Linked DNA regions of Homo sapiens. The protein of the gene in region 2 interacts with the protein of the main gene of each other region in a biochemical or structural test. Each region holds a gene or a part of one and is shown on either strand. Other genes may lie near its edges. The genes, in order: VCAN and HAPLN1.

What was found.
Region 1: the proteins of HAPLN1 (region 2) and VCAN form a complex in vitro, tested with the Homo sapiens proteins (one study listed by BioGRID).

The regions. Positions count from the first base shown.
Region 1 is NC_000005.10:83,519,975-83,523,806, reverse strand, and holds part of VCAN (versican core protein isoform 1 precursor), read right to left. Parts: coding exon 1,498-3,832; intron 1-1,497. UniProt on the Homo sapiens protein: May play a role in intercellular signaling and in connecting cells with the extracellular matrix. May take part in the regulation of cell motility, growth and differentiation. Binds hyaluronic acid.
Region 2 is NC_000005.10:83,710,572-83,714,403, reverse strand, and holds part of HAPLN1 (hyaluronan and proteoglycan link protein 1 precursor), read left to right. Parts: intron 1-3,832. UniProt on the Homo sapiens protein: Stabilizes the aggregates of proteoglycan monomers with hyaluronic acid in the extracellular cartilage matrix.

The DNA.
Region 1 (3,832 bases), 190 kb from region 2:
AGAGATGGAAAAGGATGTAGAAAAGAGGAAATATGTTATGATTTCCAAGAAACAATATCATTAGCAAGAAAATCATGATCAAATCCTGTCCTTTTTAAACTGCATTGGGAAGTGGAGGTTAATTTTAATACTCTGTGGGTGTGTTCTCTTCTCTACTATTCACTGACAAGCAAAAGCTTTCACACAGAAAATTCTGGAGAGTAGAAACCTATAGAAGCCATGAAGTGTCCACCAACAGCACTACATGCAAACATACTTGACAATAACGCTACTTGTTTGTTTCCAATAGGTGCACTCCTGAGCACTCTAATGAGGATAGCATCAGTCTTCAGAAAAATGATACTCGAAAGGGAATATTCCAACAGTAAGAGAGAACCCTGCTTAAAAAAAAAAAAAAAAATCTTCTATCCTGTCTTCTCAGAGCCAGGTCAAGAAAACAACGAATACTCATTCATTTAATTCTTATATGAAAATGAAAATATAGCAAATTAACTAAAATCCATGATCGTAATTTCTAAACTAGAAAGAGACAAACCTGAATTGATTTATTGAACTGCATTTGCTATATATTCTCAACTCAGCTTATCAAATGTAAAAGATGGTGTGGGCTCACCTTTAGACAGCAATAAATCGTATTTGATCATGACAACTCCAAGTATTAATCAATGTAAACAAACAGCTTTTAAGAGTTCTGTCAGAGAGCTAAAATATTTGAGTGGAATAGAAGGCATCACAAATATTCCTAGCGGTAAAACAATTAAATCATAAAATGAACAACACTACAGCCTGGTTTTTAGGAAGCAAGGATAATGAATATATAGCCACCTTCTGAAATTATATTTAATACAATAAACTGTAATACTCCCTACAACTAAGCTAGGTTGTACTTGCTCTAAATAGATAAAACCACAGTAAAATACCCCAAAACAATAGCATAAGAATATGTTGCATTTACATTAAAATAACACTTACATTAGAGACCTATTACCCACCACACAAGTCATATAATAAACCTGTAAAATCCTGGAAGAGAAAAACCAAAGCAAACCTTTAAATATCTTTCTGTCAACCTTAGGGATATGCAAAACGATTTTAGCCGTCCACATTGTAAGTACTGAAGGTTAATAGTTAAAGACCAATGGAATGTTAACACAGTCTAGTGCTACACTTGAGTAGTAATGTATGAAAAGACACTGAAATTAAAACACTTTGTTCTGCATGTTTTGAAGTGATGTAACAGTGATGATTTGGTTATATTAGATGACAAAGCAGGGCTTCTTATGACTTTTAACATAAAATTGTATCTAACATTCTTCCACATTGTTTAACATATTCTTCCAATTCTTGTACAAATATATGAAGCTAAAACATTTATTTTTCACACTCCAGTTATCTTCTAATAGCAGCATTTGGTATGTTGACTTTTTTTCCCCAAAAGTAACTTTCAAGATAAAATGAGGATTGCCTTCAATGCTAGTCTAGAAAGCAAAGACTTACCTGTCTTATTTTCTCTGACCTCAATAATATAAACATTAATGTCAGGGTGAAATTTTGTGCTTGCTGGGGGCTGTGGCGTAGAAAGCGCCTGAGGTCCAAAGGCCTCTTTGTCTTCCACAGTGGGTGGTCTTGTTGGCTGTGTAGCAGGAGGACTTGAAGTCGTGAAATACTCTCTATCAATATCGGTTTCTGTTTCCTTGGCTACAATATCTTCAAGGGTAGTGGGAGGAACATGAGATGTTGATTCTCCAATGATTACCATGTCACTGGTTGTTTCTTCACCAGGTTCCCTGTCGATGAGAGGTGGTTTCTTAGTGATCGCGGAAGATGGCTTGAATGCTGAAGTTGTGTGAAGTCTGTCTACTGAACTGAAGGCAGTGGTAATATCACTTGGAACTGTGACTTTGATTGTTGAAAATTCTATGAGTTCTGTGGCTTTGGGCTTTTCAAATAATCCTGAGCCTAAATCAATATCCTCTAGGGATGTTTTCTCAGTAGTGGTTTCTTCCATAAGCTGGGTAATGTGGGTACTAAAAGGACTCAAAGATGATGTAAATCCTGTTGTACTACTACCTTCTGTTTCATATTTTTGTTCAGGCCCTGGACTTAAAGATACTTTTGGCCCAATGCGTGGTGTTAGTGTTACCACTTCATCTGTTTTCACTTTGTGCTCAGTTACAGCACCTGGTGGATAAGACACACTGTGATCAATTTTTCCAACTGGAGTTGTTTCTAAAACTGGGACCCTCTCAGAACCTGTCAACAATTCATCTTCAGAGACTGTATATGCTGATCCATCGCCCTCTTGTTCATCCAGTGGTGTTACTGCCTCCTTGGGAGTCCAAGCTGTAGAACTGAGAGCAGGAACTGGTTTCTCTGCAGTCTGTTCTTTCCAAGGGAATTCTTCCTGAGTTGTTCCCTCTGTGATTTTTGTTGTTCTCATAGTTTCTGGAGAAATAGTCGCTTCAAGGCGAGTCTGATCAATGACAAGTATGTCTTGAGAGGGTTCACCTAGAACTTCATCTTCTGATGGAACAGAAGGTACTAACACTCCCCAGTCTGTCTTGGGAATTACAGAAAGAGGAATGGTATGGGAAGAGTCTACATAAGTAGTAGGCTCTTGGGTGCTACTATAACTAACAAATGCTAATCCTTCCACCTCTGAAGTGTGTGCAAATTGGGGAACAGTAGATACTGGCTTAGAGAGGTCCACATCTTCTACTTCACCCAAAGCACTTCCTTCCATGGTTGCATAAACTTGGCCTTCAGTGCTTGTGATAGGTGGAACTTTTTCTTCAGTTGTAGAATCTCTCAAAGTTGACTTTTCTGCAATACCAGTTGATGTAGTTGGCTGAAATCTAATTGTGAATTTTCCATGGGCTGCTATGTCTTCATCAGTAACCTCCTCTAACTGCTTTTGAGTACTATCTGGAATAAGAGTAAATTCATCTGCTCCATCTTCAGTGAAACTTGGGATGTCTTTATCCTTTCCATTCATCCCCACAGTTGTGAGTAAGGCAGGGGGCAATTTTGAAGAGGCTGAAGGTTCTGTAGACTCTAAAGGCTTGGATGTTGTATTATCTTCATCCCATGACCATTTTGATACAGTGGCTGCTTCAACACTTAAAGTACCATGGGCCAAAAGCACTGTTGTAATATTTTCATCATATTTTGTAGTACCTGGAGTTGCTGTAAAGTCTTCCTCCATATCTCTTACTTCTGTTGGCTCTGCACTTAACTTTGTTATCAATGTTGGGAAATCAAAAGACTTGGTCATTTCCACAGAAGACTCTGTAACATGAATTGGCTCTGAGAGAGATGTAGAGAGTTTCATCCCAGAGAAGACTTCTTCTTCTGTTTTTCCCATAAATGGACTTTTAGTGATCTCTTCTTGTATTTCATCTGTATAAGTATCTGTTCTCATCTCTGGTATTAGTGTTTCTGTTCTTTCTCTTCTATGTGTCATTTCTGTTTGTAGAGAAGGATAAATAACTGTGGAAATTCCCTCTACTAATATTTTATCACCAGAATAAGGAAACAATTCTATTTCTGTACGATGCTGTGATGGAAAAGGTGTAGTAGACAGATATTTGCCAAGAAACTCTTCCGTTATCCTACCACTAGTTTGTCTCTCTTCCCAGTCATCCATGGATGATCCATTATTATCAGGCATAATTAAAGGGGAAACAGTTGTGGATGCTGAGACTGACTCCAAGTCTTCTAAATGAGTGTGGATGGTGTCTTCTGAAGTCTTTGACACCGTAATGACTTCAGGAATTTGGTCAAAGATCAAGGTGCTCTCATCAGATCCAACTGTAAGTGTTCTGTCTTCATC
Region 2 (3,832 bases):
TATTTTATTAAGTATTTCATTAATTTATGTAGTTTTTTTTATTATACCCCATTAGATTATGCTACCATCGTTTGGTGCTCTTGTAAGCTATTGTTCTGGTCTTACAACATAAAGATGTGCTCACAGCCTATTAAATTTCTAGGACTGATGACCCTGATTTAGAGAGGTGATTTCCTTTCGTGTCTTTCCAGTAGCCTAGAGGAGAGGGGTCATTAGCCTGCATTATTCAGCTGGCTTGGAGATACGAATGCCTGACATCCTGTTGCCGCTGTTGGTGTCCAGCACAGTGCAGAACATGGGGCTTCGGGGGTGTCCTGACTTTCTATCCCAAGTGCCTATATTTCAGATGTCTGAATACCTCCAAACCCAAACCGTTCCCCAGCTCTGTTTTTGTTTCCTTATGTCTCTTCTTACCCAGCAATGTTGTTAAATTTATAAACTCTTTTAAGATGTAAATGATAATCACTACAGTATAAAATTAATCATGTAAATAAAATTAATTGTTAATCTCAGTAAATCTCTAAGGAAAGCAAGACTGGAGGTGGAAAACCCATTCAGAGGTCATCAAAACAGCGTAGGCATGACTGAATGGGATGCATTGACTGGATGTGGACGAGAAGTCTGAGATAGTGTGACTGTTTTAAGGATGGATGATTACCTGAGGAGGGATGCAATTGACTAAGATTAGGAATATAGGAAGAATAGAAGTTTCTGGGAGAAAATGATTAGTCTAATTTAGGAAGAAGTGCCAACAGGACAGCCAAAAACTCATAGGAGTTGAATGCACATTTCTTAAGTACATGGGAGAAGTCATGGCTGGAAATGGAGATTTGGAAGACTCTGGCATTAAAATGGTAGTTGAAAATCATCTGGAAGAGAGAAGGGATCGATCATCCCAGGGATATACTAAGGGAGAAGCAGTTAACCAAGAACTGAAACCCAGGGAAGAATTAGTAAGAATGAGTTTTGACATGATTAATGCATGAATTTAACTTTTTATTTTATTAACTATAAATATCCACTCAGTTGGATAACAGCAATGTTTATTAATCCTTACATCTCACAGTCCTAGTCAGTCCTCTGCATATAGAAGGTGCCAGACATGTTTGTTGAATTAAAGGAAATTAAAATGGTATTTCCGTGCCTTGAAGCTCTAATGACAGATTTTCATAATGATAACCCTGAGTAAGACCCCAAAATGTCTAGATTATAGTTGTTTATTACATTTTGTCCAATACCGAACTAACTTTAAATATATGTTGCTGCATTTTGTTGTTTAAAAATCAGTAATCAATGTGTGGTGTAGATGGTAATTCACCAGAGTACTTGATTAACCATAGCCCATGTTGTTTAGCTTACCATATAAATGAGTTTGCCACAGAATGCAGACTAATTCAAGTCTATTTATAATTCGTTTTCTAATTCCTTGATTCTGAAGGCTTCTAAATCTTAGGTCAGATTTGTAGTCCATAATCCTGGATTTCTCTGGACTTCTCAGCAACTTCCTTTTTTTTTTTTTGTCCAGGTTCTCCTCCCTCCCCTTATAGGACTGCTTGATAAAATACAAAAAAAAAATTCAATCATTCAATAACTTTAAGTATTACCCCAATATTTCATGGGACATATTTATACCAAAAAAAATTCTTGTTTTTCTAAAGTTCAATTTTAACTGGATATTCTGTATTTTTTTAACTAAACCTGACAACCCTATCCCCTACTTAAAGTTACTGTAACTAGAATATGCCAACAAAATTTTTTCATGAAATTTCTGAACACTCTCCTTCTACAGGCCAATGAAAAAAGTCACAGATTTTACTAGCGAGATAAATATATTAAAAAGATGATCTAAATAAAATTTTTGATCTAAAATATACTGATCAAGATGCAAACTTACAGAGCATTTATAACTATGACATTATATACACTATGTGCTAATAATTATCCTGAGAATGCCATCAATGTATATTCATGATCATGTTTTTTATTCTAGCTAAAATATTTTAAAATAATGTACATATTAGAAAATTAAACTTTTTATGTGCTCCATTTTCAAGTCAGCAATAACGATAAAACAAAATAATCATTTTTAAATTAAGGACCATACATTCAGAAAAAAATATATATAATATACAACAGGTATAAATTCTAACTGCAGAATACCTGAAAGGATCTTGACCCTTGTTAATTACATGTTATATTGTGCTTGTGCTGCCACCTTGTGACACTTTGAGGTATTACCCAATGTAAAAGTCCAGCTTGACCATTTGGTCAATGTTAACATGATTCCTCATCCTTACATGATTAATATTTTCACTTTACCTAAATTGCTGTATAATTTAATACAGAGAAAGTAACTTCAAGTATGTAATGCAAATATTTTCTGAGTCTGTCTGCAAATTAGTATATCATTCTTGAGTCAATCACTAAATTATAATTTATTCAGTACTGTCTGAATTTGTTTTATGGATAAATTTAGTTGTGTCTGTATGTGTGTTCAGTTTACTTGACCTTTCAATCTGAATTTCCCATAGCTTCATGAACTTAACATTTCCAGAATTGAGCTCATTATTTTCCTTTGACCAAGCCTAGTTCGTGTCATCTCTCTTTATATATATCAAGACAATAAAATGTGTTAGTCAAACCAGAACACTTTTAAGAGTCAAAGGGGATGGCTTACTAATCATGATAACAAAAAAGGCATAAACAAAGACCATCCCAAGGAAACTGGTCACTTACATATAATTTAAAAATAATTATAGTACCAATCACCCAAACTAGAAAATTTGTTGTTCTCAACTACGGGTCCAGGGCAGTGAACTGGAATCTTTATCTCAGATTTTCTTCATTCCTCCTACCTATTCATTCCCTTTCATCTTCACTTCTTTCTTTCTTGTCCATCATGCTTGCCAGCGTTCTCCATGTCCTTGTTCTGTTGTTTGCAAAGGGATCCAAAAAACAAAATCTTTTTTCATGATGAATCTAACTGCCCCCGTCCTCCACACTTGCTCCAATTTTCTGGGAACTGCTAAGAAAAGTAAATATCACCCTGCAGAATGGGACAACTTTAGAACTTTATGGTATTTGATGTCAGCTGTATCTTTCATGCTTTATGGCAGTTCTACCATATTTCTTAAAAGTCCATTGTTTCTTGAGCCCTGTAGCAGATGTGCAAGCCTCTCTAATTCACATGGAAAATAGAAGCCACCCTCTCACTGTCTTGCCTAAAACTAGCCTCTGGTCTGTACCCCCAATGCATTATCTCTTTTTTCCTTTTTGTAGAATAATATTTTTTTAAATCTCCTTTACCTCGAAGAGCCCAGTGTGGATGTTGCCCCCGAGCTCTGGATCTCATTTCCTCCAGTTTTCTTGGATAAATCTCTATTTATTAGATCTATTCTCTCTTGTATTATCAACCTCTCCCACTCTGGTTATTTTTCTTTTTTTTTCTTTTTTGAGACGGAATCTCTCTCTGTCGCCCAGGCTGGAGTGCCATGGCGTGATCACAGCTCATTGAAACCTCTGCCTCGTGGGCTCGAGCAGTTTTCCTGTCTCACCCTCCAGAGTAGCTGGGACTACAGGCGCCTGCCACCACACCTGGCTAATTTTTGTATTTTTAGTAGAGACGGGGTTTTGCCATGTTGGTCAGGCTGGTCTCGAAATCCTGACCTTGGGTCATCCACCCGCCTCTGCTTCCCAAAATGCTGGGATTACAGACATGAGGCACCGCCCTCAGCCTATTTTTCTTATTGGCATTTCATCACAGTCAAATCTTCTTTATCTTAAAAACATAAACCTTTTCTAATGTCACATACCTTCTGTCAATCTTTCTCCT